Homo sapiens: one gene and its partners. The protein of the gene in region 1 purifies or fractionates together with the protein of each later gene. This does not show direct contact. Each region holds a gene or a part of one and is shown in the gene's direction. Other genes may lie near its edges.

The links.
Region 2: the proteins of NFAT5 (region 1) and ATF1 purify together in Homo sapiens (co-immunoprecipitation; one large-scale study listed by IntAct). This does not show direct contact.
Region 3: the proteins of NFAT5 (region 1) and STAM purify together in Homo sapiens (affinity purification with western blotting, with the first as the bait; one study listed by BioGRID). This does not show direct contact.
Region 4: the proteins of NFAT5 (region 1) and WDR48 purify together in Homo sapiens (affinity purification with western blotting, with the first as the bait; one study listed by BioGRID). This does not show direct contact.
Region 5: the proteins of NFAT5 (region 1) and STAM2 purify together in Homo sapiens (affinity purification with western blotting, with the first as the bait; one study listed by BioGRID). This does not show direct contact.
Region 6: the proteins of NFAT5 (region 1) and HLTF purify together in Homo sapiens (affinity purification with western blotting, with the first as the bait; one study listed by BioGRID). This does not show direct contact.

Annotation. Positions count from the first base shown.
Region 1 is NC_000016.10:69,687,966-69,691,465, forward strand, and holds part of NFAT5 (nuclear factor of activated T-cells 5), read left to right. Parts: intron 1-2,974; coding exon 2,975-3,123; intron 3,124-3,500. UniProt on the Homo sapiens protein: Transcription factor involved, among others, in the transcriptional regulation of osmoprotective and inflammatory genes. Binds the DNA consensus sequence 5'-[ACT][AG]TGGAAA[CAT]A[TA][ATC][CA][ATG][GT][GAC][CG][CT]-3'.
Region 2 is NC_000012.12:50,816,101-50,818,881, forward strand, and holds part of ATF1 (cyclic AMP-dependent transcription factor ATF-1), read left to right. Parts: intron 1-2,781.
Region 3 is NC_000010.11:17,703,151-17,706,650, forward strand, and holds part of STAM (signal transducing adapter molecule 1), read left to right. Parts: intron 1-1,280; coding exon 1,281-1,368; intron 1,369-1,819; coding exon 1,820-1,874; intron 1,875-2,437; coding exon 2,438-2,591; intron 2,592-3,500. UniProt on the Homo sapiens protein: Involved in intracellular signal transduction mediated by cytokines and growth factors. Upon IL-2 and GM-CSL stimulation, it plays a role in signaling leading to DNA synthesis and MYC induction. May also play a role in T-cell development.
Region 4 is NC_000003.12:39,055,016-39,058,515, forward strand, and holds part of WDR48 (WD repeat-containing protein 48), read left to right. Parts: intron 1-3,500. UniProt on the Homo sapiens protein: Regulator of deubiquitinating complexes, which acts as a strong activator of USP1, USP12 and USP46. Enhances the USP1-mediated deubiquitination of FANCD2; USP1 being almost inactive by itself.
Region 5 is NC_000002.12:152,144,764-152,148,263, reverse strand, and holds part of STAM2 (signal transducing adapter molecule 2), read left to right. Parts: coding exon 1-39; intron 40-141; coding exon 142-240; intron 241-955; coding exon 956-1,102; intron 1,103-3,306; coding exon 3,307-3,376; intron 3,377-3,500.
Region 6 is NC_000003.12:149,073,034-149,076,533, reverse strand, and holds part of HLTF (helicase-like transcription factor), read left to right. Parts: intron 1-486; coding exon 487-653; intron 654-2,185; coding exon 2,186-2,319; intron 2,320-3,211; coding exon 3,212-3,309; intron 3,310-3,500. UniProt on the Homo sapiens protein: Has both helicase and E3 ubiquitin ligase activities. Possesses intrinsic ATP-dependent nucleosome-remodeling activity; This activity may be required for transcriptional activation or repression of specific target promoters.

The DNA of each region.
Region 1 (3,500 bases):
GGGTGGATCATGAGGTCAGGAGATCGAGACCATCCTGGCTAACAAGGTGAAACCCCGTCTCTACTAAAAATACAAAAAAAATTAGCCGGGCGCGGTGGCGGGCGCCTGTAGTCCCAGCTACTCGGGAGGCTGAGGCAGGAGAATGGCGTGAACCCGGGAAGCGGAGCTTGCAGTGAGCCGAGATTGCGCCACTGCAGTCCGCAGTCCCGCCTGGGCGACAGAGCGAGACTCCGTCTCAAAAAAAAAAAAAAAAAAAAAAAACCAGGAGTTTGAGGCTGCAGGTACTCACTCCAGCCTGGGTAACAGAGTGAGACCCTGTCTCTAATTGAATGAATGAGTGAGTAAATGAATGAATGAATGAATGAATATTTTTAAAAAGAAAAATACAGACTGTATATTTTTATTTTTATTTATTATTATTATTATTTGAGATGGAGTCTTGCTTTGTTGCCCAGGCTGGAATGCAGTGGCGTGGTCTCGGCTTACTGCAACCTCTGACCTCTGCCTCCTGGGTTCCAGAGGCTGAGGTAACAGGTGCCCTCTACCACACCTGGCTTTTTTTTATTTTTACTTTTTTTGTATTTTTAGTAGAGACGGGGTTTCACCATGTTGGTCAGGCTGGCGAACTCCTGACCTCGTGGTCCACCCACCTCTGCCTCCCAAATTGCTGGGATTACAGGCATGAGCCAATGCGCCTGGCCCATATTTTTATTTTTATAGGATTAACCAAACAATCCACAACAAACTAAATTGACAGTGATAAAGCTAAAGTAAGATTATTTTCTTCATTCATTCAGCAAACATTTGTTGATTACCTACTGTGCAACAGGTGATAACAACATCTGCCTTCACAGAGCTCATGATCTAATGGAATTCAAAAGCAAGAATAGTAGTTGACTATTACAGGATCAACTTAAGATAACACTAATGGTTTTTCAAAATGTTCTATGGGATATTCTTAGATTACTTTTAAATGCCTGCCCTGTGCATGATCTGAAGTTTTGTCTCAGTCAAAATTAGGTTGTAGGCCGAGTGTGGTGGCTCACGCCTATAATCCCAGCACTTTGGGCAGCCTAGTAGGGAGGATCACTTGAGCTCAGGAGTTCAAGACCAGCCTAGGCAAAGTAACGAGACTCTTGTCTCTACAAAAAAATTTTAAAAATTAGTCAGGCATGGTGGTGTGTGCCTGTAGTCCCAGCTACTTATGGGGCTGAGGTGGGAGGATTGCCTGAGCCCAGGAGGTGGAGGTTGCAGTGAGGCCTGATTGTACCACTGCACTCCCACCAACAGAGAGAGACCCTGTCTCAAATAAGATAAAATAAAATAAAAATCTGGTTGTTAGGGGAATTGTATTGGTATTAGAATTTAGGTGAAAATAGGTCCAAAGAACTCATGAATAAATGATTCATTTCTCAAACTACTTAGGTAGAATAATAAAACATGGAATGTCAAAAGTTAAATGAGCACTTTCCCCTCTGTCAAAATAATCAGTTTTCATAGGAATTAGGTTTTTAGCCAAATGGCTGTGAGGCAAGTTGAAGTAAGACAAGAAAATTGCAAATATTTTTAGATGAAAATATTTACTTTCAGCAGATTTTGAGACAGTCTTGCTCCGTTGCCCAGCCTGCAGTACAGTAGAGCGATCTCAGCTCATTGCAACCACCTCCTCCTGGATTCAAGCAATTCTTGTGCCTCAGCCTCCCAAGTAGCTGGGATTTACAGGCATGTGCCACCATGCCCTGCTAATTTTTGTATTTTTAGTAGAGACAGAGTTTCACCATGTTGGCCAGGCTGGTCTCGAACTGCTGGCCTCAAGTGAGCCACCTGCCTCGGCCTCCCAAAGTGCTGGGATTGCAGGCATGAGCCACCACACTTGGCCTTTCAGCAGCATATTGACTGACAACAACAACAAAAATTTATGAAGGGAGCGATCCAACTTATAGACCATGTGCCATTTTAAAAGCTTCTTTATAGCCAAGATTTCTTCTCGATATCAAATTAAGAAATTTAACAGCTATGCTTTCTGAAGACTGTTTCCATAGAGCTTCCAAGTGGTAGTAAACTTTTAAATCAGGATTTGGCTATGTGCTCAACTCAGAAGACTGTCATTAGCAATAGCAGTAGGTACCACTGAGTGCCACTGCGGACTCAAGTAGACAAAAAAGAAGAAAGAAAAGCAATCAAGGGGGAAAGGTAGATATAGTGAAGTGGTAGAATCTTGCTATATGTTGCCTCTAGGTATAAATCTAGAACTAACTACTCCTGAAAATGGAGGTAGTAGGAGGTGGGAAATAATTTTTCATTTTGCTTGGGAAATTTGGTTTGTAAACCTAAAATAGCCCTTATTTCTGGGGAAAAAAAAAAAGATGTTTAAAGTCCAGTCTAAAAGAGAATTGTGTCCATGTGTCAACTTGTCATATTCAAGTTTTCTAATTAATTTAGTTTTCTTTTAATTTAGAAAAGCAAAATTTATTAATCACTGGGTGGTATTTTCTAATGAGAAGCTTGAACTTAGTTTAAGAAAGAAGTGCTCTGACAATCTCATAGTCCTTAAGAAGTTCTGAGACTATATTGTCAGATAGCTAAATGCTAAGAGGAGAGTGTAGTTTGTAATTGAGTAGCTTTATCCTCCTGGAGATTTTTAAGCTGTATCCTATAATATACTCTTGGTCAGGTTGGGTAGTATGATTCAAGGCACTTGGAACCGTCTTGGGGAATATAGCTTGGTAATTGAACTGCTTAAGCTTATTATTAATATTTAAGCTATAGTTCCAGGCCCATTCCAGAGGTCCCCCAGCCAATGCACTTCATAAAAGGGAAGATATATCTTAATATACCAGGTTTGTATCTCATGCTACCATTGTAGCATCAAAAAAATAGACATTTAAATCATGGCTAATAACAAATTTTAGAATGAAATAGTTGGTAAATTTTGTGATTTTAAACTTTTCTTTTTGTGTGTGTGTATATGCAGCAATGAAAACTACTGGATGTAATTTAGATAAGGTAAATATTATCCCTAATGCCCTGATGACTCCACTCATACCAAGCAGTATGATTAAGAGTGAAGATGTTACTCCAATGGAAGTAACAGCAGAAAAAAGATCTTCCACTATTTTTAAGGTAAGCTGTATTGACTAGTGCACAAACCTCCTATATAAAAATTGCTGTCTTTTACTTTTCCTATTTTTTTAACATTATTTTTACTTTGGATGCACTTAATGAATTTTGCTGTAAAGAGGGAATGCTTTATACTTCAGCAAAATTGCCCACATAGTGACTTCCAATATACAAGGGAGGAATTAATATGTTGTATGAGATATTGATGAAAGTACTAATTTTAGCATTTTCAGAATTAGAGATGTTTTTATTTTTTTCCCAGTCTTTTCCCATAACTTTCTGTTTCTTTTTTTTACTTGTCTTATCCCCTGTAATGTTACTGAGGAGCCACAAAATTGAGATATTTTGATACCTGCTCTTCATGAACCATAAAATTACTG
Region 2 (2,781 bases), on another chromosome or scaffold:
GAGGCGGGAGGATCACTTGAGCCTAGGAGTTCAATGCAAGCCTGGGCAACATACCCATTGCTACAAAAGATAAAAAATTAGCCAGGCATGGTGGCGTGTGCCTAAAATCCCAGCTACTCGGGAGGCTGAGGTGGGAGGATTGCTTGAGCCCAGGGGGTTGAGGCAGCATGATCGCACCACTGCACTTCAGCCTGGGCAACAGAGCAAGACCCTATCTCAAGAAAAAAGAGAGAATGGAAAAATAGGTAACAGAGACTGGGAACGGTGAGGGGCAAGGAGGAGGATGAAGAGAGTTAAAGGGTACAAACCCATACACAGTAAGATAAAAGGAATAAATTCAGTGTTTCATAGCAGAGTAGGATGACCACCCTTAACAAAAACCTATTAATACTCAGGTGATGGACACCCTGAATCCCCTGACTTGATCGCTACACATTATATACATGTAACAGATTTTCTCATGTGCTCCATAAATATGCACAGAAACATTTTAATGGAAAAAACCATACAGGCCAGGCGTGGTGGCTCACACGTGTAATCCCAGCATTTTCGGAGGCCAAGGCAGGAGGATCACTTGAGCCCAGGAGTTTGAGACCAGCCTGGGCAATATAGGGAGACCCCATCTCTAAAAAAAATTTAAAACATTAGCTAGATGTGGTAGAGGCAGGAGAATCACTTGAACCTGGAGGCAGAGGTTGCAGTGAGCCATGATCACGCCATTGTACTTCAGCCTGGGCAACAGAGCAAGACTCTTGTCTCAAAAATAAAACAAACAAAAAAAAACACACAAGTAGTTAATAATCATATAAAAGACTACTCAGCCTTATTAGTAATCAAAGAAATACACATTAATGCTACACATTTAGATACCCTTTATACCCACCCAATTGGCAAAAATTTTAAAGTCTAACCAAGAGTTGGCAAGGATTTGGAACAATGGTCAGGAATTCATAGATACTACTATAGGAGTGTAAATTGATGCAGCCATTTTGGAAATTAGGCCTTATCTTGTACAGTTGACGTGGGTATACTCTGTGACCCAGCTGTTTTAGTCTGTGTGACTGAGAGGAACTTGGAGGAAGTATGTATAAGAATTTTCATAGCAGCAAAAAATCAGGAAACAACCTCAAGATTCATTGATAACAGAATAGGTACATATTGAGCCTAAACATAAAAATGGGGGGAAAAAAGAATAGGTACATAAATTGTGACTGTATTTATAGAATGGAATGTTTATTTGTAATGACTGAATGAATAATCATTTCAACATGAATAAATCTTAGAAAAATTGAATGAAAAAACAAGTTGCAACAGAATACACAAAGTATGATATTTTATAATTTTAGAAAATAAATGATAGCAGTTTTAGGGTCATATACGTATATACTACAACTATAAAAATAAGAAATGAGATGTCACGTAGCAAAAATTATAAAGTGGTAATACTGTCTGTCATTGGGCATATAAGGAAAAGGGTACCTCACATACATTACTGAGGGAAGTACGGAGTTTTATGGTATCTACTTGCCCCAACATTTCTACTTGTATGTGACAAAAGATACCATAAAGAAACTTAAAAATAAGTCTGTTAACTGGGAAAAATATTTGCAACTTTTATATAAAGAGAAAGAATTACGAGATGTATAGGTTATATAAAGATTTATTTCTGTAAATAAGAGACCTAACAGAAGGAAACCGGTCTGTGAAAGATGGCCTTGTAAACATGAAATTATTCCAAACTTTGTGCATAATGAGGGAAATGTTAAAGCAGTGAGGTTCGCTTTTTGTCAGCCGCTAGACTGACAACCATTTTAAAATGTTCATAACAGGCACTCTCATGTACTGCCCCTGGGAATGTAAATGGTACAAATACTCTGGAGGACATTCTGGCATTTTTTCCCTTTTTTCTTTCTGGTTTGACTCTGGGATTTTTTTCCTTCCTTTTTTCCCCCCTTATTTCTCTGTACTTCAATGAATATAAATTGGCACTATCTCTTGACTTTAAGTGAATATAGCTTGTGATCCTTCAAGAAATACATGTGTAGAAATACACGTAAAGAATGGAGGCTGAGTGGGTGGCTCATGCCCATAATCCCGACACCGTGACCAGGAGTGAGACCAGCCTAGGCAACATACTGAGACCTCATCTCTACAAAAATAAAATTAGCTGGTGTGGTGGTGTACACCTGTAGTCCCAGCTACTTGAGAGGCTGAAGTGGGGATATCTTGAGTCCAGGAGGTCAAGGTTGCAATGAGCTGTGATTGTGCCACTGCACTCAGCCTGGTTGACAGAGTGAGACCCTGTCTCAAAACAAAAGAAGAAAAAAGAAAAAGAATGTTTACTGGAAACCACTTAAAACAAACAAACAAACAGAGCTTAAAGGTAAAAATAAAGTCTTTTTGTGAGGGGAAAGATTTTGTACAGTCCTTTTAAAGATGTGTACTAAAAAGCAAGTTGCAAATAGTATCTACATATATAGCATAAAAATCTTAAAATAGTACTGTTTCTTTCTTTCTTTCTTTTTCTGAGACAGAGTCTTGCTCTGTTGCCCAGGGTGGAGTGCAGTGGCGCGATCTTGGCTCACTGCAACCTCCACCTCCCAGCTTCAAGTGATCCTCCTGGGTCAGACTCCCAAGTAGCTGGGATTACAGGCATGTGCCACCACAGCTAATTTTTGTATTTTTAGTAGAGATGAGGTTTTGCCATGTTGGCCAGGCTGGTCTCGAACTCCTGACCTCAGGTGATCTGCCCGCCTTGGCCTCTTAAAGTGCTGGGATTAC
Region 3 (3,500 bases), on another chromosome or scaffold:
GAAACCATCTGTGTGTTAATGGACTCTCACTTTCATTTGACCTTTTTTTGTGTGTGGTAGGCAAACTTTCTTGACATGTGCTTTTGTTTTTTAAGACTGCTTAAAATGAAAATTGTGAATAATTTACATTGAAAATTGGTATCCATTTCAAAAAAACAGAATTATTTTGACTTGGGAAGAGTTTTTTTTTTTTTTAGCATACTTATGTCACTTTCACTCTCTGATGATTAATTCGTTTCTCAAGCTATTTTCCTTTTACACAGAACATAGTTTTTAAATTTTAAATAATTACTTTGCTTAGGATTAGTAGTCTTTATTTGCCCTGCGTACCTATATATAGTAGCATAACCATGTAAAAACCATGCATGGAGAAAGGTTTGTAATTATTTTAGTAGTGGTCATGGTAAAGTAGATCTGTTTGGATTTTTTAAAAAACATAAATACATATATACTTATATATCGTATAGATGTGTGTATGTAATAATGGTTTCATTCATTCCATTGGTCTGTACAACAAAAGATTCTGAAATAGATCTGTGTCACTGGTTTGAGGTACCTTCCAGCCTCTCCCAAATAGGAAAATAGAGAAACCACTAGTCTTCCTCCTTCCTTTTATGACCAACTGAAACACTGGTAGAAAGAAAATGTGGAATAAACCCTAAGAGTCCCACTTAGAAGAGCAGCTGTGATACAGCTGAGCTCTGCCTTACTGAAACAGCTGCTGTATTCACCATGGGCAAGTAGGAATGACAAGTTGTTAGTCATAAGCAATGCCATCTTGAGATGGATAGTACACTTGTTGGCATGGCTAAGCTAAAGCTGCTCCGAAACAAAGCAAAATCCTCTGGCATGACATAAGAGGTGGAAGAACTCACGCATTGTAAGTTTAAATGTGGCTTGATTTCTTCTCGCTTAAGAGAATCTCTGTTAGCAGTTGGTTGGTTGGTTTATTTATTTATTTAAACAGGGTCTTGCACTGTTGTCCAGACTGAAGTGCAGTGGCGAGATCATAGCTCACTGCAGCCTTGACCTCCTGGGCTCAAGTGATTCTCCCACCTCAGCCTCCTGAGCAGTTTCAAAAATATATAGGAAGTACTTTCAAGGCTCTGACTTCATGCAGTACTAGAGAGAATAAATACATGGGACACTGACAACATAAAAGCAAAATTGGAGTCTCCATAACTATGAATTTCAAAAGTTTGTCTAGTTGATAATAAAGTGAAAACATAAAGTTGCCTAAAGGTTGGTAGCTTTTTATATTAACTACTTAATTCCTGTAGGATAAAATGGACCAGTTGCTACAGATGCTGCAAAGTACAGACCCCAGTGATGATCAGCCAGACCTACCAGAGCTGCTTCATCTTGAAGGTAAAACTTTTCTATTTACCTTGCAAATAAAGAGTAGTTAGAGGTTAATAACTGGTGTCCTGTTAAAGAATGGGTTTTGAGGATAATATTAAAAATGGAACATTTCTCACTTCTCCTTGACCCAGGCTCACTCTCATATGCAGTTGAAACCTTGGGTAGAATTTGAATTCTTATAATTTTCTATCCAAACGAAGTGTTCTGTTCAACATTTTAGAACCTGGTAAAATGAAAAATGGCACTTTAAGATTTTCAGATTAATATTTTAGATTAAGTTGTCACCATTATACTTTAAGAAAATCAATTTTGGGTTCTGTAGACTAAGGTTAAAGAATGTATATTTTTATTACTCCAAATTAAATCTTTTATTCCTTAAATTATACAAATATCTATCAAAGGTTCACATTTTTTTTTCTTGTACTTTCTTATATTTCTTCACATCTTGTCATTTTAGCAATGTGTCACCAGATGGGACCTCTCATTGATGAAAAGCTGGAAGATATTGATAGGTAAAAGAACATGGGTGCATTTATGTTGTGTACCTTCTTTCCTGAAGCTATCACTGTACTGCAAAGTGGGCTATAACTGCCTTTTAAAAAAAAAATATTGTGGAGGAACCAACTCTCATTCACATATCTTGTGCTAGATGTGGAGAATTAGACTCATTTGTCCTTTTTTTTAAAGTGAGGATTTGATCGACCTTTGCAATATAGTCAAAAGGACCAGCGTAGATAGGTCGTTTTAAAAACAAGGGCTAGCTATGTAATTCTCTTTGCTGAAGTGGCATTACCAGAGCTCACAAATGACCCATATGTTAGTAACTAGGGAAACCAAGATATTTCTGGTACAGTCAGGTACGATAAGACGGAGTTCCCTTAGCACAGCACGTAAACCTTAAACAGTTTGGGTTGCTTCAGGGCTAAAATGCAGGATATTTTTGTTATAAGTGAAATTTTTAATAATGTCTACTAGTACTACTTTTTGCCATTTTTGATATTTTGATGTATCATTATTTAGAGCATTATATCATTTTAGTAACAGCTATGCTTCAAATTATTGTGTCATGTTTCAGAAAACATTCAGAACTCTCAGAACTTAATGTGAAAGTGATGGAGGCCCTTTCCTTATATACCAAGTTAATGAACGAAGATCCGATGTATTCCATGTATGCAAAGTTACAGAATCAGCCATATTATATGCAGTCATCTGGTGTTTCTGGTTCTCAGGTAAGCTTTTAGAAGCCCATGTTGTTTTAAATTCTCAAATGCACAGTGAGGTGTGGTAGCTCATGCCTGTAATCTCAGCAATTTGGGAGGCCAAGGCAAGAGGATTGCTTGAGACCAGGAGTTTAAGACCAGCCTGGGTAACATAGTGAGACTCTGTCTCTACCAAAAAAAAAAAAAAAAATTAGCCAGGCTGGGGCATGTTCCTTGGTCCCTGCTCTCGAAAAGCTGAGGTGGGAGGATAGCTTGAGCCCAGAAGGTCGAGGCTGCAGTGAGCCGTGTTCACACCACTGCAGTCTAGCCTGGGCAACAGCGACACCCTGTCTCTAAAATAAATAAATAAATAAATAAATTCTCAAATGCATTTGAGATTATTTGGAATAGCTGTTTGAAACTTTCTAAAACTAATGTTTAAAATTAAAATAAAGTTTAACGGAATTTTTTTACTTGGCAGTTACAGCATATAATATACTAATTATGCTAATAGTTTTTTGTTGTTGTTGTTGTTTAAAGGAAATAGCTTTTATACAGGGTTATGCAGCAGAATCAGCCATCACACTTTTGAAAAAAATTACAGATATATCCATCCCACTCCAGACCTATTGAATCAGAATCCTCAGGGTTGAGGCCCTTTTTTTTTTTTTTTTTTTTTTTTTTTGAGGCGGAGTCTCACTCCGTGGCCCAGGCTGGAGTGCAGTGCTGCAATCTCAGCTCACTGCAAGCTCCGCCTTCCGGGTTCTCGCCATTCTCCTGCCTCAGCCTCCTGAGTAGCTGGGACTACAGGCGCCCGTCACCACGCCAGGCTAATTTTTTTGTATTTTTAGTAGAGACGGGGTTTCGCCGTGTTAGCCAGGTTGGCCTTGATCTCCTGACCTCGTGATCCACCCGCCTCGGCCTCCCAAAGTGCTGGGA
Region 4 (3,500 bases), on another chromosome or scaffold:
ACATTATTTGCTCTTATACATCAAAAAGAAAACTTCTCATCTTGGAAAAAGCATACATGGGTACTTGGAGTAAATATACTTTGTCTCCTGACTGTCTCAGACCACGAGACAGTAGCCCTGAGCTCCTTGTCAAGTTGTAGGCCAAGACAAACCCTTGAGACTTAAAAATATTGCTAAATAATCAGTGGAGGCCAGGCGTGGTGGCTCATGCCTGTAATCCCAGCACTTTGGGAGGCCAAGGTGGGCAGATCACTTGAGGTCAGGAGTTCGAGACCAGCCTGGCCAACATGGCGAAATCCCGTCTCTACTAAAAATATAAAAATTGCCGGCATGGTGGCGCATGCCTGTAATCCCAGGTACTTGGGAGGCTGAGACAGGGGAATCGCTTGAACCCAGGAGGCGGAGGTTGCAGTGGGCCGAGATTGTACCAGTGCACTCCAGCCTGGGTGACAGAGCGAGACTCCATCTCAAAAATAAAATAAAATGATACTTAAAATCAGTGGAGAGGGGTCCAAACATACTGCATATTAATTGTAGACATAATTTTAAATGAGTCCATGTCCTACCATCTTCAACTTCTAGGAAAACTAGAGATACGAGGGAAGAGGGATGGATTTGTGACTGTCAGAAACATAATCAAATATGTGAATTCAGATACATGATGTAGCATTTTCTCTGGTAACCAGGATATCAAAGCAAGTCTTTTCCATCCTTAGCAGTCCCTTGGTGGTATGATTTTCCAGCAACCTGAGTCTGTTGATTGGCTCTCTGTGCCTCCATTTTTCCTCCTGTTATGGCCTCTTCCTTCAGTGCTTCACAGTGCTTGGGGAAAAAAAATACTTCGCTTAACTTGCTGCCACTTCTAGTTAAGCTCTTTCCCCAGCTAAATGCCAAGAGGACTTTTGTGCTCACTACCGTATCCTCAGCATTTAGAATAGTGCCAGGCAACAAGTGGGTGCCTAGTTAATATTCGTTGAAAGAATTAAATCCATTTTCCTCTATTTTTCTATAGCCAGACATTTTAAATTTTTTCTCTGTACTTTAATGGATGCAGATAACAAGTTTTTAAGGTGACATGTCTTGAAACATATCAGCATATATAGTTTTCGTTCTTTAATGACCACATAGAATGGATGTACCATAATTTGTCTAGCCATTTCCTTATTGAAGATATTGCTTTGATTTTTTTTCCATCATACTATAATTTGCTTTGAAAAAACCTCCAGTTATAAAATAGTAAAGGAAGTGTTACAAAAATAAATGAAAGGACAAAGATAGATAATACAGAATGCATAAAAGATGAGGGATCAGTTTGAAAGTTCCAGTATCTGACTCATTTGAGTTCAAGAAAGAGCAAAGAAAACAGAGATGATGATTAATAATGGATACAAGAAAATTTCCCGGAGCTTAAGTGCCGCAAATTTCTAGATCGAAGGGGCTTTCTAAATGCACAGAAAAACTAATGATAGAAAAAACAAACAAGAAATGTCACAACACCAAGGAAAAAGAGAAAATCCTGAAAGCTTAGGGAAGGAGATGACGAGGGAGTGGAGGAAAGAATGAAAATAGGATCCCTTTAAAGCTGTATGAAACAGAATGGCATTGAAATCAGTGGCAACATTGGATGCTAGAGGAACTTACAGCAATGCTTTCAAGAGCTGAGAGAATTGCTAAATCAAGTGTAAATGTGGAGGAAAGACCTTTTCAGGCATGCAAGGACTAAGTTGCCAACCCATGTGCCTTTTCTTATATTACTTTCTTAAGGTATTGGGGATGTATTTCAGCAAAACTATGGAGTGAACAAAGAAAGAAGGAGGCATTAGAATTCAGGAAACAATGGCTGTAACCCAGAAAAGCAGTAAAGGAAAACACCAAAGGTGACAGCTGTGCCAGCAGATCTAGAGGGCAGTCAGCCTAGATTGTAATGAGAAGAAGGAGGGTTTGGAGGGGGAAGCCTTCTGAGAAAATAAAGGGGTGGGGGTGAGTTCTGTGGTACAGCAATTAAAATTGAAATTAAAGTGGAGAAAACCATTGAAGAAGGAAAAATTAAAACTCTAGGGAAAACAAAAAGCTCTTTGAGGAAGGAAATGTATTCATAATATAGTACTTAGTAGATAGCCTTACAGTCACAACAATATAGCACGGATTATTTGTTCAATTAAAAATAGGGATGTATCTATATTAGAAGAGTAGAGGGAGGAGATATTGAGGGTAGTTTCAGAACTACATCCTAATCTACAGTAGCATGAGTAAATCGATAATGTCTAAAATGGATGAGCCAAAAAGTTATAGGATAAGCACAATATTTAGAGAAATGCAGTTAACTATCCAGTAGCAACAACTGAGTTGCAATTAGTTACCTTTAGGGATGAAGACTAGGTGTGGGAGTCTTATCCAGACAGTAGAGAGACTGTTTTTCATTACAGTCATTACTATTTGATTTTCTAAATACAAGCAGGAATTACTTGGATAACAAATGATCAAATTTTAAAAACTAAGTAATACATGTTGTTTGTAAAACATTCAGAACACATGAAAGAGACATGAATGAGTGAAAAATCACCATAATCCCATCATTCAGAAATAACTGCTGGTTATTTTATTTTATTTTTATTTTTATTTTTTTGAGACATTGTCTCACTCTGTCTTAAGGCTGGAGTGCAGTGGCACCGTCATGGCTCACTGCAACCTCTGCTTCCTGGGTTCAAGTGATTCTCCTGCCTCAGCCTCCTGACTAGCTGGGACTACAGGTGCGCACCACCACACCCGTCTAATTTTTGTATTTTTAGTAGAGACGGGGTTTCACCATGTTGGCCAGGATGGTCTTGATCTCCTGACCTCGTGATCTGCCCGCCTTGGCCTCCCAAAGCTGGGATTACAGGCATGAGCCACTGCGCCTGGCCCCTGGTTATTTTTATATATGTATAGTCTTCAAAACTTGTGTATTTGTTCTGAAATATTTAATATTTTGAAACATTTTTATAATAATGACTATTGTACATTGTTGTGTTGGACCACACATATTTCACTAAAAATATATCATGGCTTTCCGCCCATGTTTATCAGTCTAGACCTCCATCAACTCTTTCTTATTCTTTAGAAACAGGGCTCTCATGCTGTTGCCCAGGTTGTAGTACAGTGGTGCCATCATAGCTCACTGCAGCCTCAAGCTCCTGGGCTCAAGCAGTCTTCCCACCTCAGCCTCCTAAAGCACAGAGATTACAGGCATGAGCCACCACACCTGGCCTACATCAACATTTTAAGTGATTGAATAGTGTTGTGTTTTACAGATGTGCGTGCTAGAATTTATCCAACTAGGATACTTCTAATTCTTTTGCATTTTAAAGCACACGTCTTTAGGAAATACCGTTGAAGAGGTTGGCCCAGACTGGTTTTAACAGTAATTACTTTCCACCTAGAATGAGAATTCTGACATTCAGGTTATTCTTTCACTCTTGCCTTAACCAGTCAGATAATCTCCCAGAAGTCTGGATATCAAG
Region 5 (3,500 bases), on another chromosome or scaffold:
AATCATAAGGTTCCACATGTTGCTCTGCAAGCACTAACTGTGAGTACAAGGCATGTTATTATTTGACGCAAATTTTAAATGTGTTTTTAATTACAGTAAGTTAATATTTCAATATTCATATATTTTTATTTCAATTAATAGCTTCTTGGGGCTTGTGTGGCAAACTGTGGAAAGATATTTCATTTAGAAGTATGTTCCCGTGATTTTGCAACAGAAGTACGTGCTGTGATTAAAAATAAGGTAAATTTTAAAAACAGAAGAACTTTAAGTCATTAAAAAAATGTAGATTGTGTGTCATTATAACTATATGTGGCATTACTAAAGTATTATAAATGAAGTCATTTTTAGATCATTGAAATGAAATAAACTGTTCTGAAATTTGATTTTTTAATGTGTAGCACCAAAAACTATTCTCCCCAAAGTATATATACTGTAAATAATAGCAAATCCTTTTTGAGGGCTAGTAAGTAGTCATTACTTTAAGCATTTTACATATACTGTCTTGTTGAATGCTCTTAACTACCCTTGGAGCATTAGATTCTTGGAAGTTAGATTCCCTTATCATTCTTATTTTATAAATGCAAAAACTGAGACTTAGAAGTAACTTGTCCAAGGTCATGCAGCTGGTAACTGGAATAGCCATGATTTACATCCAGGTTTCTCTGGCTCCATTCTCCGAAACATGGAGGAAATAATCTCTGAATATAAAAGATCTGTTGTCATTATAGTAAGACTTAGGAATTGGTGTTAAAAACAGTCATTTTGTATGAAACAACTATATCACAACATGTAAATAGGCATCTATCAATTACTCAACTAGGCTAGAAATTTCAGGACTTTTGTTGATGTTCATATAATTAAAGAGAATTTTGATGGTAATTCTCCTTGTTAAATAATTTAAGTACTTATTTTAACCGTAGATTTTTGTTTATTTTCCTTTCCTTTTCCTTAAAAGGCACATCCTAAAGTATGTGAAAAACTGAAATCTTTAATGGTGGAGTGGTCAGAAGAATTTCAGAAGGACCCTCAGTTTAGTCTGATATCTGCAACTATTAAATCTATGAAAGAAGAAGGAATTACTTTTCCTCCAGCAGGTTCTCAGGTGAGAGATTTATTCAGACCCATGGTTGACCCTATAATATTTTGAAGGTATGTATGTTATGTAAAGACTAGGCAAGGTATGTCTAGATTATCATTTTCCACCTTTACTTCCCAAATGACTCTCTAGCATAGTGCCTTCCTTACGTTTAGTAGACATTCTAGTTTTTATGTGTATTTCTTCCACATATCAGAACCTTGTGAAGTTAATCAGACATAGTGTATTTAATGTTCCTCTAAGTCTACAGTCATGCAAAAGGCATAGGTATATGACATACCCCTTATATTCAAGAAATTTGTAGCAAATTTGAATGATAGCTTTATACATGTGAAAAATAACTAATTTAGATTGTAAGTGACAAATACAGGATGAGGGGAATAGACTGCATACTGTCTATCTTAATACCAAAGAGAGAAAGAGGTGACTACAGATTGGAATGGTGAAGAAGGTAAAGAGGTAGAATTTTGAGACTTGAATGTATTAATATTTTGTTAGAGAGAAGTGAAGAAGTCATATCAGGAGGTAAGTGAAATGAACAAATTCATGGAATTGAGAGGCTCAAGACTTGTTTGTTCAAGAGTGAATATGCCTAGAGTGAATGCTTCACATACAAGATGGATGGAAATGTAAGACTAGAAATTTATTTGCTGGGAGAAGGGATAGCTTTAGTAGAACTGGGGTGTGGAGGCAGGGATGTTGACTCATGGAGTGGGCTGGTTTTTTTAGGTCTAGGGGAGAAAAATACTATTCCTTGGGTTTTGCTCTCAGTACCTTATTCCTTCCCATTAATATTAAGATATGGGCTAGGGAAAGAGACGATGAGAAGTACTATATTTTCTTTTATTTTAAATCATAGATTAAAGAGAAAAAAAGATTTTTTTTTTTTTTTTTTTGAGATGGAGTTTTGCTCTTGTTGCCCAGGCTGGAGTGCAGTGGCACAACCTCAGCTCACTGCAATCTCTGTCTCCCGGGTTTAAGCAATTCTCCTGCCTCCGCCTTTAGAGTAGCTGGGATTGCAGGTGCCTACCACCATGCCCGGCTAATTTTTTGTATTTTTAGTAGAGACGGGGTTTCACCATGTTGACCAGGCTGGTCTCAAACTTCTGACCTCAGGTGATCCACCTGCCTCGACCTCTCAAAGTGCTGGGATTACAGGCATGAGCCACCACGCTGGCCGAAAAAAGATTCTTTATAGCTGACCAGACCTAAGGGTACAAGGTAACGTTTTGAGATAAGAGTCTTATAAGTAATAAAAAGGAAACATTTTCCTGTTCTGTCCTTTCTGCATATTTTTCTGAAAAATCTATGTAAAGAACCGGTTGATGGATCAGTCCTGGATACCTGTCTTACATGCTGTTTATTAAATTCAAGCATGACCTTCCTTACTTCTCTGCTATGTCTGGCAGACCACTGCCACCCAGCCACAATAACTAGTAAAAGGACTTCACACATATTCCTAGAACTGCACCTCTTGTCTCTGTCCCCATTCCTCTCTCTTCAGTGATGATCATGACTTCTTGCTGGCACTCCTCGTGTAGCTGTACTCCTATAGCAGAGCTCCTCTCACTAAGAGACCTTGGACAATTGAGATCGGGAATACAATCAGAAAAGAGTCTTTTTTAAATTCTATTAATATTTAAGTACTTTCTGTATGCCAAGTTCTGTGTTACATTTATGCAAAATCTAAGCCAGTTTGATCCCTGTGTGAGTTTATAATGTTTTCTTGAAAAATCTGATGTTTTATTTTAGTATTTGAAAACAATTATTTAAAATTATTATAAAGAACTTCACTTTTAGACCAGTGATGGTGGCTCATGCCTGTAATCTTAGCACTTTGGTAGGCTGAGACAGGAGAATCACTTGAGGCTAAGAGTTGCAGATCAGCCCAGGAAACATAGTGAGACCCTGTCTCTACAAAAAATAAAAATTAGCCGGTTGTGGATGCATACACCTCTAGTTCCGGCTTCCCAGGAGGCTGAGGCAAGAGGATCACTTGAGCCCAGGAGTTGGAGGTTACAGTGAGCTATGACTGTGCCATGCACTGCAACCTGGCTGACAGAATGAGACCCTGTCTCAAAAAAGAACTTCACTTTTAAATGAAACTCAGTTATATCAGTATTTTTTAAAATTTACCATCTGCAAGTAATTATGGAGCTTGTGTTTTGTTTGAAAAGATAGTTGTGTTCATTTTACTCATACATTTACAGACTGTCTCAGCTGCTGCCAAGAATGGTACGTCATCGAACAAAAACAAAGAGGATGAAGACATAGCTAAAGGTAAATGATCAAGCACATGTAATTTAGTGTTGCTTAAAATATCTTTGCCAGGGCTGGGCGCGGTGGCTCACGCCTGTAATCCCAGCACTTTGGGAGGCCGAAGTGGGCAGATCATGAGGTCAAG
Region 6 (3,500 bases), on another chromosome or scaffold:
CTCTGCTACCTTTTAGCTTTGTGACCTTGGGCAAGTTACTTTTCTGTGCTTCAGTTTCTTCATTTGTAAAATGGGAATAATGATAGTACCTCCCAATAGAGCTGTGAGGATTTAAAAAGTCAGTCTGTGCAATGTACTTAGACCAATGCTTGGCACATAGTAAGCGCTCAATAAGGGTTGGCTATTTTTCAGAAGTTATGATGTTGAAAATTTTAGATAATTTGAATTTGCTAGTTTACATTTGACTATTTTTTAAGACATTAAGGATTTGTTAACTTCCTAATGAATATAGATTAGAAAAATAATATTAAGGAGTCATAATAATATATATTAATATTTCTGTAGTTTGTGTCTAGAAAATATATTTTTCTTATGTGCAGTGTTTAGCAGTAGCATTAAAAAATGAATGGAAATCCCAGATAAAGTATAACAAAGTTATTGTCTATTATTTATAATGTAATATTATCTGTTTATCATTTTTATTAGGTTAATAATAATGAAATGGTTGCATTACAACGAGATCCTAATAACCCTTATGATAAGAATGCAATTAAAGTAAACAATGTGAATGGAAATCAAGTTGGCCATTTAAAGAAAGAGCTTGCAGGTGCTTTGGCCTATATCATGGACAACAAATTGGCACAAATTGAAGGGTAATGTACTTTCAGAATTTAGTTTTAATAATTGTGAATTATAGTCATCTTTGAACTTGTTAGGGCTTCTTGTTAGAGCCTATAAAGGTATGCTAACAATTTCTATCACTGTACTTTTGGTACGTGTTAAATAAATGTTTTATTTCTCCTTTTACATACTTCTACTACCCCAGCCATCAAACAATTGTCCTCTCATTTTCCTATGGAATTATTACCATGGAGAAAATAGACCTTGGTTCAAATATTAGGAAGTACATTCCATTTCTCCAAACCTTTTGGTACCTAGGTTTAGGAATTTGGAAGTGTTTATTTGTTTATTTATTTATTTATTTATTTTGAGACGAAGTCTCACTCTGTTGCCCAGGCTGCAGTGCAGTTGTGTGATCTCGGCTGACTGCAACCTCCGCCTCCAGGGTTCAAGCAACTCTCCCTGCCTTAGCCTCCTGAGTAGCTACAGGTGCCTGCCACCATGCCCAATTAATTTTTGTATTTTTTAGTAGAGACAGAGATTTGCCATGTTGGCCAGGCTGTCTCGAACTCCTGACCTCAGGTGATCTGCCCGCCTCGGCCTCCCAAAATGCTGGGATTACAGGCGTGAGCCACCGTGCCCAGCCTGGAAGTGTTTGTTTATATCAGAGGTTATAAACTGGTATTCTGTGATATGATGTAGGTGAATTTCATTTTGCCCTGCAGTGTTTTAGACATTTTTTCGTTCAGTACTAATTATTGAAATAGCTAAGTCCGCATTTTATACATATTAATTTATTTTCTTAAATACAAAAAACTTATTTTTCTCTTGACAAGTGGGAAATCTGGCAATGCAGGATGAGTTGTCACTTCCATATGACAATAGTTGACTGGAACTCTCCCTTTAGCTAGGGCATATGCTCTCCCAGTTTTATCACCTGTTTCTTTTTTCTTTTTCTAAACTCTTTCAATCTTTCAGTTACCTTTTCTCTTTTAGGCATTTGTACTTGTGATCTCAATTTAAGTATCTGGAATATTTAGGATCTTGATATTCTAATTCTAATTTTTAGGATATTCATATAATCCTAGGTGAGTTTGAAGAGAAAATAAATGCTCATAATGTCTCACTTTGTTTTCTCCTTTTTCAGTTTATCAGGTTTTTCAGTTATTGAGAATAACTTAGTGAATCACAAGTTCTTGCATTTCCCATTTTCCAAGCAGAATGAGTTACTACCCTCAGTGGTTCCGTTAGCCAAACTCTACCCTTTGATTTAACTTATTTTACTTATATTACAATCTTGTTTACAGGCCATCCTTGCATTTTTAAAACTGCTTTATTCCATTTTCTCAATTTTTTCTGGCACTCTGTTTCTAAAAATCACCCTTCTGATTGTTTATGGTTCTATTTCTTTTCCTTTTTTTCTTTCAAGTCTGCCCAACTAGTTCCTTATTACTTTACTTCAATGTAAAATGTAAATGATACACTTAAAATATTGAACTAATTCTTAGTGGGGATAAAAAGTAATGCTTCTGATTTCCCTTTCTTTTTCTCCCAAATATAATAGGGTAGTTCCTTTTGGTGCAAACAATGCTTTTACCATGCCTCTGCATATGACTTTTTGGGGAAAAGAAGAAAATAGAAAAGCGGTTTCAGATCAGTTGAAGAAACATGGATTTAAATTGGGTCCTGCACCAAAAAGTAAGTTTAGGGTTTCACTTAATATTATTCTGATATTGTAAGATGCAGGGATTATGAAACATTTATTCTCTCTTGGAGTTTGTTGGCTAATTTGTGCTCAAGGCTCCAAGGTACAACTTTTTTTCAGGAGTCTTTTTGAGGAAATCTCTGATTTTTCCTTTTGCCTCTATTGAAATAGATTCACACATAAAAATATACACAGTAAGAGTGAGGGGATATTAAAAAAATTAAAGAAAAAGTATATATGCAATGAAGTCTCATATATACCCTCCCCTAATTTTCCCTAATGGTAACATCTGGAAACCCCTGACTTTAAACATTCTTTTTGATAAATTTTAGGCAAAAATAATCTTCTGATAGCGAATGAAAAGGATTGCTTGGCAAGAGTTTGTTCAAATAATGTGGAATTACTTGTTTTTTTAGTGATTTAGTATTTAGCTTTTAAAATACCTCTAAAATACAAGGCTTTTAATGCAGTTTGTTATGCACGTTTTATTTATTTATTTGTGTATATATTTTGAGACAGAGTCTTGCTCTGTCACCCAGGCTAGAGTACAGTGGCCACGATCAGTGGCTGAGTGCAACCTTGACCTCCTGGGCTCCAGCAGTCCTTCCACCTGAGCCTCCTGAGTAGCTGGGACTACAGGCGCACACCATCACGCTCTGCTAATTTTTGTATTTTTTGTAGAGACAGAATCTCACCATGTTGCCCAGGCTAGTCTCAAACTACTGGACTCAGGCAAACCACCTGCCTTGGCCTCCCAAAGTGCTTGGGTTACAGGCATGAGCCACAGCACCCAGCCCTGTTAATGCATATTTTAAAAGCTACTTAATAAAAGATAAAAACCTACTTTATTTGATGGCTTTATTCTTTTTATTTTGTAAATTATAGCTTTAGGATTCAATTTGGAAAGTGGTTGGGGCTCTGGAAGAGCTGGACCAAGCTATAGTATGCCAGTGCATGCTGCAGTACAGATGACAACTGAACAGGTGTGCTTCTCTTTTATTTTGTAATCTAAAAGTGAATTTTAAATGTTGCAGGTTTGTATTTAAAAGAACAGGATGAATATGTACGTGTGGGTATTTGTGGTCTTCAAATATATTAAGTTATAATGAAACATGTTATAGAATAAATAGAATATATATATGTTAACATTTTATATAAAAAGTACTGATAAGGA